Homo sapiens: one gene and its partner. The protein of the gene in region 2 purifies or fractionates together with the protein of the main gene of each other region. This does not show direct contact. Each region holds a gene or a part of one and is shown on either strand. Other genes may lie near its edges.

The links. The genes of interacting proteins can lie anywhere in the genome.
Region 1: the proteins of HSD17B3 (region 2) and HERC3 purify together in Homo sapiens (affinity purification with mass spectrometry; 2 studies listed by BioGRID and IntAct, with this or other methods). This does not show direct contact.

What each region holds. Positions count from the first base shown.
Region 1 is NC_000004.12:88,651,183-88,658,869, forward strand, and holds part of HERC3 (probable E3 ubiquitin-protein ligase HERC3), read left to right. Parts: intron 1-829; coding exon 830-906; intron 907-1,686; coding exon 1,687-1,908; intron 1,909-2,859; coding exon 2,860-2,951; intron 2,952-3,991; coding exon 3,992-4,122; intron 4,123-4,692; coding exon 4,693-4,853; coding exon of another isoform or gene 4,854-4,891; exon of another isoform or gene 4,892-6,252; intron 6,253-7,232; coding exon 7,233-7,309; intron 7,310-7,687. UniProt on the Homo sapiens protein: E3 ubiquitin-protein ligase which accepts ubiquitin from an E2 ubiquitin-conjugating enzyme in the form of a thioester and then directly transfers the ubiquitin to targeted substrates.
Region 2 is NC_000009.12:96,298,897-96,306,615, forward strand, and holds the start of HSD17B3 (17-beta-hydroxysteroid dehydrogenase type 3), read right to left. Parts: upstream 3,281-7,719; 5' UTR 3,209-3,280; coding exon 3,055-3,208; intron 1-3,054. UniProt on the Homo sapiens protein: Catalyzes the conversion of 17-oxosteroids to 17beta-hydroxysteroids. Favors the reduction of androstenedione to testosterone. Testosterone is the key androgen driving male development and function. Uses NADPH while the two other EDH17B enzymes use NADH.

The DNA.
Region 1 (7,687 bases), on a different chromosome or scaffold from region 2:
AACACAATTAAGGTTTTTAACGGCATTTCATTTTTAAAAATGAAGTAATCTGTTCTACAGTAATAGCTTAATATTCATTATTCATGTTCAAATTATGGATGACTTCCAAGACTTTGATTTGTATATAGTTTTCTATTATAAGTTAATTGAAATAAATTCACTAATTTATACCTTTGTATTGTGGAAAGTAACATAGCTTTGATGTCAAACAAGCCTTGGATTCCAATACTGGCTCTTTTACTTGTAAGGTGAATGACCTTGGGCAGGTTAACTTTTCTAAGCCTCAGTTTCCTAACTTAAAAATTACTTACTATGTACCTTACAGGGTTATGGGGAGGATAGAAGGAGACAAGTAGGTAAAATACAGTATGTGCTTGCACTGTATGGACTCCCTCTTCCCCACCTCAAGGGTACAATTTCTCTATTATCTGTCTTTGTTCTTCTGACCTGCTTCTTTTCTACAACTGATTGTGACAAGAGTAATGGTGATGGGGAATTGTTGAAGCAATTCTCTGCCTCAGCCTCCCGAGTAGCTGGGATTACAGGCATGTGCCACAACGCCCGGCTGATTTTTTTTGTATTTTTAGTAGAGATGGGGTTTCATCATATTGGCCAGGCTGGTCTCGAACTCCTGACCTCAGGTGATAAGCCCACCTTGGCCTCCCAAAGTGCTGAGATTACAGGCGTGAACCACTGTGCCTGGCCTTAAAAAGACTTTTAGGCAAGATGGTGTTATTTATTACTGACATTTTATTTAATTGGGAATATTTCTGATAATTGTGTTTGTGTGTGAATATCTATCTGAAAAAGAAAGCCTTTTCTGTTTTAGGTTAATACAAAAGCTGAACCAGCAAACAATATTACAAGTTTCCTGTGGCAACTGGCATTGCTTGGCTCTTGCGGCTGGTAAAGTAACATTAAACATATGCTAATGCTATGTTAATTTTGAAAACATTTCTCTTTGTCTTTTTGTGTGATATTATCTAACTGAAAACTTTGAATTAACTGGTTAGGGTCTATGCATTGCTGTTGGACAGTGACAATTCTCATATGGGCTTTGCATAGCTCATCCTTTTCTCAGGGTGTGGGTGATGAAGTAGGTGGTCATCATTGCTGCTCCAACTTTCACAGGGGAAGATAAGCAGGGGGCAGGACCATACCTAGGTGTTCTGAGCATGGAGGAGATTGATTTTTCTTAGCGACAGCCAACTCTCAAGCTACATTCCACTATCAAGCTCCCAAATGAATGAAAAAGAAGGAGTTGGAGAAACCTAAATAAATCTGCACTTCTGTGTCCTGCTTGATTATCTGCAGAGCAGACCAAGTGGTCATTGCTGGACCTCCCGAAGTCTTGGGTCTCATAGTCTTAGTGTGGTCAGAACTAGTGTGATCTTGCTTAAGCCTGGTAATTGGCCTGTCCGAAATTGAATTTACTTATACATTTAATATTTTCTGTGTATAAATTTTAATAGCCTTTGAAGGGCAGTAAGACTCAGCTTACCTCTCTGTTATATCACTTGGGAGTTTTGGTTTTGGCAGTCTGATAGCATGAAGTATCTCTGTTCCTTTGCTCTTGGGTGGGTTTGGTGTTGGGGGGCAACTGGCAAATGACCCTAATAACTAGATTATTTTTGTGTGTGGAGCTTGTATCATTTTATGGTAATACCAGTTATCCTGTTATTTCAGATGGCCAGTTCTTCACCTGGGGAAAGAACAGCCATGGGCAGCTTGGCTTAGGGAAGGAGTTCCCCTCCCAAGCCAGCCCACAGAGGGTGAGGTCCCTGGAGGGGATCCCACTGGCTCAGGTGGCTGCCGGAGGGGCTCACAGCTTTGCCCTGTCTCTCTCAGGAGCTGTTTTTGGCTGGGGGATGAATAATGCCGGGCAGCTAGGGCTCAGTGATGAAAAAGGTAGGTAAACCCTTCATATGTATGTATTTAGTTTAAAAGCACATTCATTTAACACATGCTTCTTGAGGATCTACTATGTGCTAGCCCCATGTGAGATACTAAGGGAGAAGCAGTGAACACAATAGAGAACATCCTCGTCTTAGTGGAGACTGTATTCTAGTGAGTAGAGGTGCAACAAAACCAGTAAATACACAGGATTTGAGAGTGCAGCTTCCTGCTTTACATAAGGTGGTGGGGAAGGGCCCCTCTGATAAGAAAATGTTTGAGCAGAACCTGTAGGAAATCAGGTGGGAGATGGGACATGTAAATGTCTGGGTGAAAAATGTTCCTGTCAGAGAGAACTGGGTGTGCAAAGGTGCTCATGTGGGAAGAGATGTAGTTGGAGAGAAGGGGAAGAGTAGCACAGCTGCAGGTCAGAGAAGTCGTGTAGACCCAGTTATGCAGGGCCCTGAGGGGCAGGGTGAGGATATAACTGGTTTTCTCAGTGAGAGGGGAAGACCCTGAGGGTTTGGAGGAGAAGCGTGATCCACTTTGGCTTTGGCTGTAGTGGGTCAAGGGGGAAGCTGGAAGACCAGCTTGGAGGTTGTGGGAGTAAAGTCAGATTTTAAACATATTTTGAAGATGAGGCCAGTTGGTTTTGTTCACTGTTGGATGTGTGGTTTGAAATAAAGGAACAGCTGGAAGGGCAAAATGACTGTTTCTGAAATGGGGAAAACCGTGTGTAGTAAAGTGAGCTGGAGAGTGGGCAGGGTTGGAGAGTGTAGGGAAACCATGAGGTAGGTTTTAGGTAAATTAAAACTGAGAAGTCTGTTGGATATCCAAGTACAGATGCAGGCAGGAAACTGAACATGCGTCAGGAATCCAGGAATCCAAAATTCATGCCAAGATAGTTGTGTATATTTCATCTCAAAGGCAAATGGTAGTGATATTCTGATATTTAATTTATTCTAGATCGAGAATCTCCATGCCATGTAAAACTCTTACGCACGCAAAAAGTTGTCTATATTAGTTGTGGAGAAGAACACACAGCAGTTCTCACAAAGGTAAGGAGCTCAGAGTATTTTACTTTGGTGCTGGGGATATGATGGGTGATTAGAATTGCTTGATTATGTTAGTGTAGTGATGGTGTGTGATTACAGTATTGTGGCTTGAACTTGAATGCTCTCTTTTATGTGGGTTTGTTGTTTTCCAAAGGAATAGAAAAAGACTACTTTTTTGTATGTCTCTGTTATCCTCTTTGGTAATCTTGTAGATTTTTCATATATATATATATATATATATATATATATATATATATACACACACACACATAATGTAGATTATATATATATACACACATATAATGTAGATTATATAAAAATGTAGATTATATATATAAATATAATGTATATATTTATATATATATAAATTCCTTGGTTCTTTATGGAACAAAGACAGCACTTTGTTATTTTTATTTGTTATTTTATGTATATATAATATATATAAAATGATGTCCTATGTTCCTTTAAAACAAGTCATTTAAATATGTAAAAAAGAAACAGCAATTTAATTAATGTTTTAAAATAATCATGTTTCTTTTGCTTCTAAATACATTCTAGAGAGAATGAAAATGTATTTTTATATTGAACAAATATTATTCTACGTTCACTTTGATAAAATGCCTTAACATTTATTTAAATACAGCTGTTAAAAAAACAGCTTACTTACCAAGGAATTTGTAGAGCACCTAATTTCTTACATGTGAATGATCATGTAAAATCATCTCATTTAGCCTAGCTCCTAGTTTCTCCTTTTTTAAAATTTTGCTTCCTAACACATCATTGTACTTTCAAACGATTTTAAAAATTTACAGAAGGCACACATTCCTTTGAGCATTGCTATCTTTGTTCCATAAAGATGCAGTCTGAAATTCCCTTTTTATTATTTTTCTATTTAATGAACATCCTTACAAAGTGATTTTGGCCAAGTGTCAAGTGAATGTAGTGCTCTTGTGCACATTGTTGTGATAGGCATTTTGTATACAGGGTTTAGAGGTATACCCTTAAAGATACAGTGAAGTCCTATGGTGTTTGTTCCTTGTTAGAGTGGAGGTGTGTTTACCTTTGGCGCTGGTTCCTGTGGGCAACTTGGACACGACTCCATGAATGATGAGGTTAACCCTAGAAGAGTTCTAGAGCTGATGGGTAGTGAAGTAACTCAAATTGCTTGTGGCAGGTGAGTGTTCCTCAAAGCTTGCTTGTATTCACTAGGACCCAGAAATTGGTCTTATCTTTGTAGTGATGAAGAATGTGATTATACCTAGTCACCGTCATTTTAAGAGATCTTAACTGCATGCACGCCTATGGTGAAATGTGGAGAAAGACCTTGATAGAGTGTGGCAAGGAAGGGTTTTAGATAAGCAGAGCAACACGGAGACATTAGGCTTCTTTTGGGATAAAGAGTAGCAGGATGTGGGGAAGGGATAAAGAAAGGAAAAGTGAGAGAGTCCCAAAGAACTTCTTGGAAATTTTTGCCTGAGTCTACCCTGCTTCTCTCTGTTCATCTTAGAGGCCACATGCAGTAGATCATTCAGCTCTTTCCTGACTTGCCACCCTCCTCATGATCTAGAGTGTTAGAGGATAGTATTATGGAGAGCAGCCGCTGCAAGAAGAGTCACGTGTTAACATGGGAAAGGCTCTATAGGAGCACCCTGTGCTGTGCACATGTGGAAGTTAAAAGTCAGAGTCAGAGTGTACATCCACATTAGTAGAAACTATGCTGATGAGTTAAATTATTTTTTCACAGACAACATACCCTAGCCTTCGTGCCTTCTTCTGGACTCATCTATGCATTTGGTTGTGGAGCAAGAGGTCAATTAGGAACTGGGCACACTTGTAATGTTAAGTGCCCATCTCCTGTCAAGGGTTACTGGGCTGCCCACAGTGGCCAGCTTTCAGCCCGAGCTGGTAAGAATGATTGTCTCTGGAATTTAAAGGTATTTTAAGTGATGAAAACAGTTGTTTACAGAATATGTATCTATTACTTACTTTGAGGTCTTTTGGAGGGAATGAAGATAAGGTATTTTTTAACATCAATTAATAATTTCTGTACTTACTATGCATGAAGCTGTAGAGTTGAGATCCTAGAGAATAAATAAAGCAGGAAATACTGTTGTGTTAGGCCGTTCTTGCATTGCTGTAAAGAGCACCTGAAACAGGGTGATTTATGAAGAAAAGAGTTTTAATTGGCTCACAGTTCTGCAGGCTCTACAGGGAGCATGATGCAGCCATCTGCTTGGCTTCTGGGGAGGCCTCAGGAATCTTACAGTCATGGCAGAAGGCAAAGAAGGAGCAGACACTTCACATGGCAGAAGCAGGAGCAAGAGGAAGAGTGGAGAGGAGGTGCCATACTTTTTACACCACCAGATCTCATGTGAACTCAGAGCAAGAGCTCACTTATCACCAAGGGGATGGCCCAAGCCATTCATGAGGGATCCGCCCTCATGATCTAAACACATACCACCATGCCTCACCTCCAACATTGGGATTACTGCAATTCAACATGAGTTTTGACCAGAACATACATTCAAACTATACCAGTTATTTTGTTTCCACAGACCTTGGTGGTGGTGTATACATTTTATTGTTGTTGCTAATAATGACAGTTCGCATGTATTGAATGCTTAATGACGTTTCATTACTATGCAAAGCACTCAAAATAATCTAAGAACTAGTTAGTGGTTATTATCCCCATGTTAGAGATAAGGGAACAAAGTCTTAAGGAGGTCAAGTAATTTGCCCAAGATCACATAGATTCTGGAGGCAGGATTTAAACCCAGGTCATTCTAAATCATGTGTACTATGTTACCTCTACTTTGCTGTTGGCATTTTGGTATATAACATGATGTGATTTCTTTTTAAGCCATTTTTTTTCTTCCCTTAAAAAATAGTTAAATAGCAGTCTTGGTTTCATTGGAAATCAAAGTCAGGCAGTCATTAATATTGAATGACTGCTTCACCTTGAAATAATAAATCTGAGGCTGAAATGGAGCTAGAGAATCATTAAAAGGAAGTGTAACTTATTAATTTTGATTTTGAAGTCGATAAAGTGACACACTTATGGCTTGATCAGGAATTTGTTTGAAACAGTAACCATCATAAGTTTTAGTACTGGATTATAAGAAACTCAAGGACACAGACAAACTCTTTTCCTTTTTGTAAACCTAGCATATAGCACAGGACCTGGCATGAACTTGTCACTCAGTAGACATTTTTGGAATGGATATATGAGCATCTGAAATGTAGTGCAACTTAAAATATAAATAAACAAGATTTTGTCTGGGTGATGTTCCCAGAAGCAAAAGAATGGCTTTGTGTCCTCTTCTCTGTAATTTGTAAATTCTTTTCTCCAAGACATTGTACTCATACGTGGAATACATTTATTTAGAAAGTTTACCAACTCAGGTGTTTTTTGGTTATTTCAAAACCACAAATTTTTGAAGTTGAATTATAACCTGACTTCCATGGTCCTAAATTTGTGCTTGGATGTTTGCCAAAATGATTTTATAACATAAGCAGGTAAATGTCAGTTATGTAAATGACATGGTTTTAGGAACCCTCTTGGTAATGTGGGAGCACAGAGGAAGGCATGGAGGAGTATTGTGGTTAGAGGAAGTTTGAGCTGTGCCTCGAAGGATGATTTGGAGTTAGCCAGGTGTAGAGGACTGTGAGGGAGTTGGTGTGAGCACCACCAAGGTGCAGTTCCAGAAGCACATTCAGGTTGTGCTCTCGGTGGGCACATTCATGGAGAATCCCATGTGCCAGGGGCAGCAGAGGGGGGAGGCACCGAGATGTGAAATAGTGTGGTGTATTAGAAATAAAGGCAACGTGGTAGTAGGAGAATGTCACCGTGGACACAGTGTGATGGGAGGTAAAGCAGGGAGCAGGAAACGGAGGTCCTTCCGTGGCAAGATTCGTCCTGACGGGGCCTGGGCCCACCACACTCACATGCTGAATTGTTACCATAAAGAATAGTGCCCATTTCAGATTTCAGGTCAGTGGCATGACAGAGTTAGAATGAAAAAGAGAAACTAGGTCAGGATTCACTGGCAGTTGGGGAGGGGCAGAAGAAGAGTTAGAGTGGAGGATACCATTTTATATATTTATTTTTAATTGAAGTAGAAACAGTCCTAGGCAGTGAGCCAGGGGAGAAGATTTCTTACTTCTGTGACACAATTAAAATGGATAGGTACCCACTCTGAAGTGTATTCTGCGACAGTAGAAAAGGGGATCAAGGAGAAACTTCAATTAATGAAAAATATGCTTTCGGAATTTTTTTTTTGACAGATCGCTTTAAATATCATATCGTTAAGCAGATCTTCTCTGGAGGAGACCAGACTTTTGTACTTTGCTCCAAATACGAGGTAAAATTTTTCTTGTGACTCTTATTTCCAGGAAGGAATAATAGTGAACCAACATTTCTTTTAACAAGTAATTACAACATAAAGAGCAATGTTACTCTTTGTTTCTACCAATCCTATGTTATTTTTAAAATAAGCAAACTAAATCTGGAAGAAGTTGTCTCCATTTGGCTCCCTTGAAGTGCCAACAATTCTCCTGGAATTATGGAGTTCTAATTTATAATTTGAAATTATTTATTTATATTTGTACTTGTTCCAGAAACTCTGTAAAGGATGCCTAGGGAGTTGGTGCTTACTTTGGCATTATTTGATTTTCCATTTCTTTTCTTCCCTGTTAAGTGGCAACAAATGCTAGGTGTTTGAGAACTTGGTGGGTTTCTT
Region 2 (7,719 bases):
CCTTCTAAAAGTGGAGCTCTGCCCACTTCTCACCCCCACCCCACAGCAGCAATTAAAGGCCTATGGAAGGTAGGGAATTTAGCAAAGAGGAAAATACCAAAATGCAAAAAGAAAATGCAGTGAAATGAAGAAACCTGAAGAATTTGTACTCAATAGAACTATCTGTTAATATACAACAGTCAAATAGGTCTGCTAGTCCTTTCATATCAACATTACAGACATATTTAATGATTGAGCTCTAGTATACGCTTCATTCGTGAGAACGTCACAATTTCAAAATTCACTACAATTCGGTATATCGTAAAACTTACAATTTACCCTTGCAACAACAATTAAAGGGCATGCTTTCAAAAAGTGTGAACAAAAGGTACATTTAGCTCACCTGAGAGTGAGTGCAGGCCAAGCTGTACAAGCCTCACGGACCACACTGGCTTTAATAATTACTAATGATGTGTCTGTTCGTTTAGGAACTTCTAAGAGGCTCCATGCACACCGTCTGCAGCTCTGGGTGGAGGAACTATGCTCAGGGCATCTTGGGCCTTACCTTCCCCTCCCTGTGGGGAATCTTCAATTCACCCAATACAGGGCCTACACTACAGGCAAGATGATACCATCAATAATAACGACGGATAACGGTCACACACTCACTTCTTGCCATGTACTGCTTCTAGTGTTTTAGATGCATCATCTCATTTAATGTTCAAAACAAACCTAAAATGCAGGGACCATCATTATCCTTAGTTTATAAATGAGGAAGCCAAGGGGAAAAAGTTCGTAACTTGATTAAGGTCACACTGCTAAAAATGATGACACAAGGATTTGAACCCAGGCTGTCTGACTTTGGGGCCCTGAGTCTATGAATATACACTAAGAAAAGAATTAGGAAATCCAGCACAGAGCTCAGGGTACTCTATCTGAGGAATTAAAAATTTAGCCTCTAGTTCTTGCGTTTCTTTTTTGTCCCCTACTTGAAATATATTATCTCCCTGATATCTGCCTCTGCCCAAACATATTTTACTCCTGCTAGAGGTAACTCTATCCATCTTGACTCATAAAAACAGGTTAAGATCATGTTTTTCCTTTGAGTCACCAAATGCTCTTAGTCTCTGTCCCCATTTGAACTTCTTTTAGAATGTAGGTTTTTAGAAGGGCTTTCCCTACACAAACGACAGCAGCTGTGCAGAGTGCTACGTCCACCCACACGTGGGCATCTGAATCTGTGTGGAGTGGGGTATTTAAATCCAGAACACTCAGGTCAAGCTGCTGAGCAAGTTCAAGCAAGTTCACTCCTGACAGCATAATACCCCAAGAGGACACACACACACACACACACACACACACACACACACACACACACGCACACAGCAAATATAAGACGCAGAAGTCAAAAATCCATTTGTCATCCCAAACAATTTCTCACACGGTAATTTTTTTAATTTCCATTGCTAAGTTTTTAAGGTTGCCAGGTTTAGCAAATAAGGATACAGAATGCCCACTTAAATTTGAAATTAAGGTAAATTATGAATTGTTTAATGCATGTCTCATGCCATATGTGAGTTATACTAAAAAAGTATTCCTTTTTTTCTGAAATTTAAATTTAACTGGGTATCCTGTATTTTATCTGGCAGCCCTATAAGCATATTAGAATCTTTCCTATTTTGCCTAGATAATATCTCTAAAGTCACTTAATCATTTTTGTCATTGGATTCTTTGTGTGTGTGTGTGTGTGTGTGTGTGTGTGTCCAAATTTGAAATATAAGGCCCTGCAAAGACTTTAGCATTTCAGATATTCAAGGAGATGCTGAAACCATGGCCTCATGCTCTTCACCTTAACTTCAGTCATAGGGCTGAAGTTCTGCATGGGCGTTCCAGTAGATAAATCCCATGGGGAGGCAGCATTAATTGACACCAGCCAGACCCAGATTCCATTCCATACCATCCTGAAAACATGGCTCCATAGAGTTATGCGTTGCCTTGATTTTGTAACACCTTCATTTCTTAAAAACACTTGGATCCTTTTTTTAATACAATGAGTTAAAATTATTTAGATTTCAAAATTTGGAAACACCTTTTAGTAAAGTGAAAGCACCCTGGGCTTTTTGTAAATTTAGAGATGAGGATGCAGAAATTTCTGCATTATTTATTATTTGTATTAGCAGGAAACTCCCAAAAGAAGAAAACTCATCTAATGGGGTTGAGAGGATAAGTGCTTAGCAAGGGCTGGGTAGCCTTCTGCCCTAGTGTTCCCCTAATGCCCTACAGCTTGTGTTGCAGACCATTCTAATTTCACTCACACTTTTCTAATCCCCCCAATTAAAATTACCCAAAGGAATTACTTCTTTGCTCTCAAAGAGAAAAAAATGCAATATCCCTTTTGAGACATAAATAATAATAAGCAGGGGCTGGGTGCGGTGGCTCACGCCTGTCATCCCAGCCGTTGGGGAGGCCGAGTCGGGTGAATCACAAGGTCAAGAGTTTGAGACCAGCCTAGCCAACAGGGTGAAACCCTGTCTCTACTAAAAATACAAAACGTTGGCTGGGTGCGGTGGCTCACGCCTGTAATCTCAGCACTTTGAGAGGCTAAAGTGGGCAAATCATGAGGTCAGGAGTTCGAGACCAGCCTGGCCAACATGGGGGAACCCTGTCTCTACTAAAATACAAAAAATTAGCCAGCCGTAGTAGTGTGTGCCTGTAATCCCAGCTACTTGGGAGGCCGAGGCAGGAGAATTGCTTGAACCCAGGAGGCAGAGGTTGCAGTGAGCAGAGATCGCACTACTGCACTCCAGCCCGGGCAACAGAGTGAGACTCTGTCTCAAAAAAAAAAAAAAAACACCATTAGCCAGGTGTGGTGACAGGCGCCTATAATCCCAGCTACTTGGGAGGCTGAGGCAGGAGAATTGCTTAAACCCGGGAAGCGGAGGTTGCAGTGAGCCAAGATCGCGCCATTGCACTCCAGCCTGGGTGACAGAGCAAGTGTCTGTCTCAAAAATAATAATAATAGTAACAAGCAGGAACAACAGCAGCAAAAAAACATGAGATGGAACACTCCCTTACCTGCCCACTGTCCCATTGACCGCAAGAAAGACTTTGGCAAAACTTTCCAGTAGTTCAGTAAAACACATCTGGAGAATCTCACGCACTTCGCCAGGCAGGCCAGGCACACCAGCAGCCCTGTGAGGATGAAGAACTGTTCCAGGACGTCCCCCATGGCTGCACTCAACAGACTGTTTCAGCCCTGGCCGTGGCTCTCTGTGTATGCCTCCTGGGACCACGCTGCTCTGGAGACCTCCAGATCTTCTTCCAGGAGTCACTGGACGTGTTCCATCAAGTCAGGGGCATCTAGATTAAAGTAACTTCTTTACATAATCCTCTGACTCACAGGCCTTTGAATAAGGCTTTTGTTACTGTGGAGGAGCTGGTGAAAAAGTAAAAGGTGGACATGAAGGGAAAAAAACAAAGCCTGGACAAATATAAAATGGCAGCCCACAGTTCTCTCCCTGAATTTGGGAAAGTTAAAAAGGATGCAGAATCCAAGGCAATTATTCATACATTTAGCACTATGTATTGACTGCCTACCAGGTGGAGTCCCCTCTTGAAGGCATTAGGAAGTTAATAGTGACCACAGAGGGTCTCTCTGGTTTGGAGCTTAGATTCTGGTAGCAGGGACAGATGATGAGCAGATAAATAAGATAACATCAGATGGGGCAGTGGCTCACGCCCATAATCCCAACATTTTGGGAAGCCAAGGCAGGCGGGTCACATGAAGTCAAGAGTTCAAGACCAGCCTGGCCAACATGGTGAAACCTCATCTCTACTTAAAATACAAAAATTAGCCAGGCCTGGTGGTGGGCACCTGTAATCCCAGCTACTTGGGAGGCTGAGGCAGGAGAATCACTTGAACTTGGGAGGCGGAGGTTGCAGTGAGCCAAGATCACGCCATTGCACTCCAGCCTGGGTGACAGAGTGAGATTCTGTCTCAAAAAAAAAAAAAAGATAACATCAGTGCTATGAAAAAGCACTATTGAATGATGTGTTTGAGTAGCTACTCAGGGAATGCTTCAGAGAGGGTGTTCAGGAAGGAATTCCATGAAGAGGTGGCATTTTTAGTTGAAATTTGAATGAAAAGGAGCCAGCTCCGCAAAGATGAGTTTCCCCCTCCAGGCTAATGGAACGGCTAGTACAATGCCTGAAGTGAGAAAAATCCACGTATTTGAGGAATAAGAACTAGGACAGGACAGGCATGGTGGCTCACGCCTGTAATCCCAGCACTTTGGGAGGCCGAGGCAGGCGGATCACAAGGTCAGGAGATTGAGACCTACTAAAAATACAATAATTAGCTGGGTGTGGTGGAGCATGCCTGTAATCTTAACTACTTCGGAGGCTGAGGCAGGAGAATCGCTTGAACCTGGGAGGTGGAAGTTGCAGTGAGCTGAGATTGTGCCACTGCACTCCAGTCTGGGCGACAGAGCAAGACTCCATCTCAAAAAAAAAAAAAACACTAGGACAACACAGCAGAGGGACTGGCCACAGAGAGTAAGGGAGGAAAAGGCCAGAGCAGGAGGGAGGAGCCATGCCCTACGGGTGAGTGTGGACTTTCAGAGCAACCAGAAGCCATTGCACAGATTTAGGAAACAGAGTTCTATACTCTGAATTATGCTTTTAAAAGGCCACTGGATGCTGAGGGAAGATGTCCTTCTGGGGGTGGGATGGAGGGTGGGTGTGACAACTGAAGCAAGGGCAGCCAGGATACTGAAGTCATCCCTGCAGAGGCCACAGGATCAGTCCTTGGCCTTCTCTCATTTCTGCCTGTGCTCACTCTCAGCTCACTCTGTGCTGCAATCAACAGCCTTGCGCTCACCCTAGAAGCAGAATTGCTGGCCAGAACATAGATTCATACGTCTTTATGCTAGATATTGTCAGATTTGCCTTCATTTTGCATTCACGCCAACAACACGTGAGCATGTTCGTTTTCCCACTGCCTTAGCAGTAAAGCATGTTGTCAAGCTTTGGGACTTTTGCCACCCAGTAGGTAAGAAGTAGCATCCAATGTTGTTTTAAGTTTAAATTATCTTATCAGCCAGGTTGGAGAGATTTTCTTAAGCCTAAGAGCTATTTTCACTGTTTTCTTTGTGAATTTTCTCTCTCCTGCCCGTTTTTCTATGTGGTTTTTGGTCTTTCCCTTCTCTGTATTTAGAGATGGTTTCAGGACTCTGATTAGTCAGAAATTCGACCTGCTCACTCTGTCCTTCATGGTCATTGATTATCTCTTCAGGTGTGTCTGATCATTGTTAAGTCAGCCCATTGTGGTTTTTATTTTAATGACCTTAACTTCATTTCTAAAAGTTCCTTTTCTTTTTTGCAAAACTGAGGCTTTTCTTCTTATGGTTCTCTGCTCCATGCAGATATTTTTAATTTTGACTTTCTTTACCTCAGCATAATTGTCTTATGATCTGGCTTTAACAATTCCAGTACCTACATCAGCCTTTCTGTTGCTGTCTCCTCTCTCTGGTAGGTCTCACTCATGGTGCCCTGTTTCCTTGTGTGCTTGATAATTTTCACCTGTGCACATCCCATTTTGCTTGGAAATTTCTCTGTGAGGTTTTCTGATGAAGCTGTATTCCTCCATAGAGGAGGTGGTTTTGCTTCTACCAGATACCTAGAGGAACTTCCAATTTGGAAAATTAAATTCATGGCTAAATTCATAGTTTTCTAAACCATGCAGGTGAAGTGAATTTGGTCTGCCATGACACCCCACCCTGGCCTGTGTTGATAAACCCATAGGACGGTTCTCTGGCCATCTCCACCCACCACCACCTCCTCTGCTCAGTGCCAAGGTGCATTTCCTTGTAGTCCGGGAGCATGTTTCTTCTGGACCACGGTTACCCTGAGGATGTAGAAACCTTTTGGGACCCCGGCCTTATGGAATGTTCATCTATTAGACTCTTCCTGACCTTCATTTCTGTCCCATACCATCACCACTGAAGCTCCCCATCACCCCGTCCAGCAAATGCAGGGCTTATGTGGCTTCAGTGCTCAATTTACCTCTCTGTATTGCTGCTTTCTCTTATACTGAAATTTTTGACTATCTTAATAGGTTTAATGCTTTTAATAAGCTCTTTGAGAATATCTCTTCTGCCCACAAAAACATGGATAAATCATATTTTGTCAAGCAAAAGAAGTCACAGAAAAGTACTGCATTAGTTATCTATTCTGTATAACAAATTAACCCAAAACTTAGTTGCCTAAACAATGCCATGTATTATCTCATGATTTCTGTGGGTCAGGAATCCAGGCATGGATCAACTGGATCCTCTAGCTCAAGGTCTTTCACAGGTGGCAATAAAGTCCAGCCAGGTGGCCGTCATCTCCAGGCTCACCTGGGGAAACAGCAGCCCAGTCACTTGTTTGTTGCAGGATCCGGTTGCTCCTCCTTTGTTCCTTGCTGTGTGGGCCTCCTCACAGGGCAGCTCCCAAGAGCAGCTTGCTTCATCAGATCTAGCCAGTGAGAAGAATCAGACAGAGAGAGAAGGCAGAAGCCACACTCTTGTAATCTGATCTCGGAAGGGCCATTCCATCACTTTAGCTGCATTCTGTGCATTAGAAGCAAGTTCCTAGATCCACTCCATATTCAAAGGGAAAAGATCACACAAGGGAGTGAACATAGCGGGTGGGGATCATTGAGATCCATTATAGAAACTGCCTTCTACATGTACATACCATAGGATGTTATTTATAGGAAGTTAAAGAACAGGCAAACATAATCTTCAGTAAAATAAAATCAGAACACTTGTTGCCTGGTAGAGGTGAAGGGATTGGCTAGAAGGGTCATAGGGAACTTTTCTGGTTGATTAAGATGTTCTATATTTTGATAAGCAATGTGTTCGGAAGGGCATGCCTTAATCAAAACTCACTGGACTGTACACTTTTAAGCTCTGTGCAATTTATTGCATGTAAATTATCTGGAAACTTCAAACAAATTTTATCCTGCAGTTATTCTTTGGATGGTGGATAATTTAGACTTCCGTTACCAGAACTGTAAGCCGCAATTCATTTGTGTGCTTGGTCACAGACCAAGATTTCCCCACTTTTACTTTTCAGCATCAAAAACTATATCCAACCCCATGTAATAGATTGAGAAATTACATACCAATATCTGACTGTGAATTCAGCAAAGCTTTTAAATAAATGTGTATTTTTCTATTTGCAAGATGCTATGACTTGTATCACCTACCCCCTGGCCCCAGCCAAAATTCATGTATTGAAGGCCTAACCCCCAGTGTGATGATATTTGGAGATAGAGCCTTTTGGGGGTGATGAGATCATGAGGGTGGGGCCTTCATGGTAAGATTAATGCCCTTAAATGAAGAGACACAAGGCTGGGTGCGATGGCTCACACCTGTAATCCCAGCACTTTGGGAGGCCAGGGTGGGTGGATCACCTGAGGTCAGGAGTTCTAGAGGAGCCTGGCCAACATGGTGAAACCCCATCTCTACTAAAAATACAAAAATAAGCCAGGCATGGTGGCACCCGCTTGTAATCCCAGCTACTCGGGAGGCTGAGGCATGAGAATTGCTTGAACCCAGGAGGCCGAGGTTGCAGTGAGCCAAGATCGCACCACTGCACTCCCAGCATGGGCGACAGAACGAGACTCCATCTCAAAAAAAAAAAAAAAAAAAAAAGAAGAAGAAGAAGAGACACAAGAGATCTCCCTCTCTCTCT